2 separate regions of the Homo sapiens genome follow, and region 1 is linked to region 2. Evidence: fine-mapped expression QTL. Tissue or cell type: whole blood. Region 2 holds a variant in brackets; the other region holds the start of a gene. All regions are shown on one strand. Distances are from middle to middle.

Region 1 (2,500 bases), 66 kb after region 2:
TGCTCAAGGCATGAACAGAACACATGCTAGGCCAGGTAGAAGGTCAATGAGGAGATGGCATCCCACGCCCTTCACTGTTCAAAGCCAGAGAGGAACTATCTAGAAATTCAAGTGTAAAGAGGATGTCCATGCTGGTTGTGACATGTGTGTTCACAGGCCTCATGCCTTTGCTTTTCTTTTGAAAAAGAAAGTGACAGAGACCTGGGGAGATGCTGTGTTAGGAGGGCCCCTCCTACTTTGGGCTCAGGAATCTCACCGCCTAAGGGACTTCCTGGGTGCTCAGAGGTACAGGAAGCAGAGCGCTCTGTGTTCACAGGTGCCCGCTTTCCTCCTCCCGACTCGCCGGTGCTTTAGGGCAGATCTGGATACTTTGGCTGATTTTGGGAAATGTTCTCTGAAGTTAGCCACACGTTAAGCCAGGCTTGAGGCCTTCACTGTGGTCACATGGTAGCTCCAGAGGTTGGGATGGGGGCTCTGGCCCCTTCAAATCAGCGGAGTTAGGAAGTATGCTCTCACCAAGAGGAATGCAAAGCCCACCTGCTCCAACCTCATGCCCCAGTCGGTGGTTCTCTTGTTCGTTCTTCTTTCTCGCCCTTTGTTCTGTACTCGCGGGCACTGGAGTCTCTTTATCCATTTGGCCATCGGTTCCCCTCTCCATTTATCTGTCACACCCAACTGTGCTTCCATCTGCCCTCCATCCCTCCTTCTCTCCTCCAGCCATCTGCCAGCCTTCACTCCATCCTTCTGACTGCTGGTATGTCTGTCCATCCCTCCTTCCCTCGCACCACGTGGGTCTGGGGCTCCATCCCCTGTCCCATCCATCCCTCCATCTGTCCCTAGCCTGCCGCTCCATCCCGCTGCCCTTTTGCATGGCTGCAGAGCCAGCCCGCAGACCGTTCCCCGGTCCCTCTCACCCCCGTGGGCCCTCTAGCCCGTCCCCGGCCGCCACTCCAGGCCAGGCCGTCAGTCTCCCACGCTGGGCCCGCGCCTGAGCGGGATCGGCCCCCCATCCCTCCGTGGGTCTGTCTTTGTTCGGCGGCCCCGGCCCGGCCGTGCCTCCCACGGCCCCTCCGCGCGGCTCCCAGGCCCTGAAGGCGGCGGGCGGCGGGCGGCGGGCGGCGGGCGGCTAGCCCGGGGCGGGGCGGGGCGCGCGGGGCGGGGCGGGGCGGGGGCCGGGGGTGACTCAGCCGCGCTCGCCCCGCGGTCCGCGCGTCCGCCGGCCTTGCAGGCGGGGCGGAGAAAATGGCGCTGCCCCCGGCCGCCGCGCCCCCCGCCGGGGCCCGGGAGCCGCCGGGGTCCCGCGCCGCCGCCGCTGCCGCCGCCCCCGAGCCGCCGCTCGGCCTGCAGCAGCTGTCGGCGCTGCAGCCTGAGCCGGGCGGGGTCCCGCTGCACTCGTCCTGGACCTTCTGGCTCGACAGGTGAGGGGGCGCGGGGCCCGCCGCGCACGGCCCCGACCCGGGTCCTGCCGCCACCGCCGCTTTGTCTCGGCGCGGCCCCTCGCCCCGGCCCCGCTCCGCTGTGGCACAGACCTCGGCCCCTCCGCGCGTCCGCCTGCGCACCCCGGGACTCGCCCCGCCGGGTCGGAAGCCAGCTTCGGGCCGCGCCGGGCGGCTGTTCGGCGTCCTCGCCTCCGGGCCGGGGGAGGACAGCGCAGCCCGAAAAGTTTCGGCAACACTTTCTACCCCTTGTTCCCTTCCGATCGGAACGCGGCGTGCTGGCAGGGCCGTGGGAGAGGGTAGGCGAGCTGGGGGTGGCCGCGTCCCTGCTGCAGGGAGAGGGCTGTCCTGCTTACCCCGCGGGGCGCCTGGGAGCTCAGGACACGACCTCAGCTGTGACAGCGCTCGGAAAAGTTGCCCATCCCTTGGGAGGTGTGCGGTGGTGCAATGATTATTGCACGGCGGGCGCTCCCACCCCGTGTCCGGCCGCTGCTGCCGTGGACTCCTCTTCCAGTTCTTCCTCATCCACTGGGCAGGTATTTCCTGAACACCTACAGTGGAGCCACACACCTGCTATGCGCTGGAGATTCAATAATGAGCAGCAGCTGACCTTGTCAGGAAGGGGGTGAATTATGGCTTTCTCAAGGGACAACCCAGGTGCCATCTTTTCAGAAAGACCCCCTGACTACCGTATCTAAAATAGAAACCTTGCTCCCTCGTTTTGTATTCTCCTGCCCTGCCTTCTTTTTCTTCCTAATGCTTAATGCAGCTGGATTTTATTATATATGAATTTGTTTACTTTCAGTCTGTCTCCCCAGCTCCTCAACACCTCCCCTCAGTTAAGGATAAAAGAGCAGTGGATTTTTGTTTTTGGACATTTTGGACCTAGAACTGTGCCTGGTCCCTAGTAAGAACACCAGAAATTGTTATGAATGAATAGATGGATGAATGCAAAGCCCCTTCTTAGTGTCTGCCCTGCAGTGGGTGCCCAATGATGACACCTCAAGGTTGTCCCAAGAGCATTTGGAAATTTTGATGAAACCGTGTCTATTCTGGCTAAGTGT
Region 2 (2,840 bases):
TTTTTTTTAAAAAGTCTTTCTCTTGAATTAATATTTCAACTATTTAAAAATAGGTAAACTTTATTTTACATTATCACTTGAATAGACCAAATAATTGTTAGTGCCTCCATAGACAATTGGCTTTCAAATTGAATCTTGGTGATTTATTTTTAAATATAAAGAGAAATCATCAGCTTTGAAAAGATTAAAATAGATGTCTTATTTAGAATTATAAAAGCAATTCATTTTTCATGTCACATTTAAAGCATAGTTATTATATTTAAAAGATATTTCAGACTGATATTATGGGTTTGTTAACAAGAAAAGCCACCATGTAATAGAACAGTGATAAAAGATGAAGGGTGAAAAAAATAAGAATATCTATTTTACTTTTTTGGAACCCTTCTAAATGAAAAATCATTTACACAAAGACAAATGGGACCTAGCTAGGAAATTACCAGACCCACCTATTATGTGAAAATAATTAGAAGTCATACGAAGAAGGTACATACAAAGTAAGCCCTCAGACAAGCTGGAATCATTTTTAAAACCAGAGCAGGCCAGGCACAGTGGCTCACACCTGTAATCCCAGCCCTTTGGGAGGCCAAGGTGGGAGATTGCTTGAACCCAGGAGTTCAAGACCAGCCTGGGTAACACACCCATCTCCATAATTTTTTTTTTTTAAATTAGCCAGATGTGGTGATGCGCACCTGTAGTCCCAGCTACTCGGGAGGCTGAGGTGGGTGGATAGCTTGAGCCTGGGAGGAAGAGGCTGCAGTGAGCTGTGGTCATGCCACTGCACTCCAGCCTGAGTGACAGAGAAAGACCTTGTCTCAAAATAAATAAATAAATTTTTTTTAAAAAATTAAAAATAAAACTAGAGCTTCATGTAAAAGAGTAACAGAAGTTCTCTTCCTTTATGTAGCTGAGATTGTGTCAGGCTTTCATTGCAAGATGGCAGATGGAAGACCCATTTGCTTCCTTTCCCCAATTCTACCAACACATTTATTGAGCACTTACTATATAACTGGCAATTGAGATGAAAGTACACATAACAAGGTGAACATGCAAGGGGTCCACCAGTGAGCCAGAACTTTGGGCAAATTCCCACAACTCAGAAAGCAGATGAATTCCACCAGTAAACAGAGAGAGCCTCAAAAGGACAGCCCAGAACAGACCTAGGAAAAGGAGGTGGGAAACAATTTACTCGAGGGGCAATAATAAAACTCTAGGCTCTTTATGATCTAATGCATGAGTCAGCAAACTTTCTGTAAATGGCCAGAGAGTAAACATTTTCAACTTTGCAGGTCATATAGTTTCTCTTGCAAATACTCCACTCAGCCCTTGTGGTGTGAAGGCAGCCTTAGACAAAACATTGGCAAGTGTAGCTGGGTCCCACTCAAACTTTCTTTACAGGAACAGGCAGTAAGTCTCAGTTTGCCAGCCCCTGATCTAAATTCTTACCACTGTGCCTACATTATATGAAATCTGAAAATTTTAAGGGGAAAATTGCCTGAGTTTTAGCTCTAGCCACCATCTTCTCTGTACCCCGGGTCTGTCTGATTGCCTTTCCCCATACCCAGAGGTTGCCAACACCTCAGCATCCATCTGCACTGTCAATCAGTTATACAAGGTGAATCTTGACGTTTCTTGTCCAGCCTTTATCTTAACCAATGGTAAATTCTACTTGTTCTACTTTGGTTTTTTTGCTGTTTGTTTGTTTGTTTGTTTGTTT[GTTTT/T]AGAAAGAGTCTTGCTCTGTCACCCAGGCTGGAGTGCAGTGGCTCTATCTTAGCTTACTGCAACCTCCCAGGTTCAAGTGATTCTCCTGCCTCAGCCTCCTGAGTAGATGGGATTACAGGCATGAGCCACCACACCTGGCTAATTTTTGTATTTTAGTACAGGCAGGATTTTGCCACGTTGGCCAGGCTTGTCTCCAACTCCTGACCTCAGGTGATCTGCCCACCTTGGTCTCCCAAAGTGCTGGGATTACCGGTGTGAGCCATCACGCCCAGCTCTCTACCTGTTCTACTTTTTAAGTGAGTGGGTTCACCTCTCTCCCTCTTTGCTGCCAACACCGTTAGCAGAGGCCACCTGGACCGCTGCCATGGCCTCTCATCAGGCCTGCTCTCAGCCACTCTCCAATCTCTTCTCTATATTTTTTGTAATTTGTTCAACAAATATTTATCAAGTGCCTACTATGTGCCAGGCATCTTTCTAGGTACTGGAGATAAATTAGTGAACAGAACAAAGTTTCTGAACATCCCTTATCCTGTGGCGCTTAGATTCTGGTGTATGTGTGGGGAGGTGGGGGCAGTAAGGCAACAAAGATAAAACGTAATATGTAATAGAATATGCTAGAAGGTCTTAGTGCTAGGGAAAAGTGAAATATAAAAGGACTAAAAGGCAACTGGCATGCTGGGGCAGTTGCAAATGTAAATAAGGGTGGTTAGGATAGGCCTCCTTGCAAAGGTGAGATTTGAACAAACATTCGAAAGTGACAAGGGAGTCTGCCATGTGGCTATTTGGGGAAAGAGCAGTCTGACAAGGAGAAGATCCAGGACAAATTTCCCAAAGTGGGAGCATGCCCTGAGTGTTCTAGAAACCTCCAGGGGGGCAGTGTGGCAGGAGCAGAGCTGGCAGGAAGACAAGAGGTAGGAGTAGTAAACAAAGTCAAAGATCTGAAGGTCTCTGCGAGAGAAACGAGAAACTACTGCAGGGTTTAGAGCAAAGAGTCTAACTTACTTTAAAAAAAAATAGGTGTTGATGATAGAATGTAGAGGGCAAGGGTGAACCCGGGAGGCCAGTCTTGAGGCAATGACAGTGACAGTAATCCAGGCTGGAGGTGACAGGGGCTCAGAACA

Evidence for each region. PIP is the estimated chance that this variant, and not a neighbour inherited with it, causes the effect.
Region 1: EIF4E3 starts here. The variant in region 2 is fine-mapped to the expression of EIF4E3 in whole blood (INTERVAL, PIP 0.95).

Annotation. Positions count from the first base shown.
Region 1 is chr3:71,724,110-71,726,609 of GRCh38, reverse strand. EIF4E3 (eukaryotic translation initiation factor 4E family member 3) reads left to right here and starts at 1,208. Exons shown (of 7, transcript NM_001134651.2): 1 at 1,208-1,418. The coding sequence starts at 1,243. RefSeq lists silencers at 1,484-1,553, 1,684-1,803.
Region 2 is chr3:71,790,215-71,793,054 of GRCh38, reverse strand. No RefSeq gene overlaps it. Among named protein-coding and RNA genes, the nearest start is that of PROK2, 6.5 kb to the right of the region's middle. The variant GTTTT/T (reference allele first, on the strand shown) is at 1,715.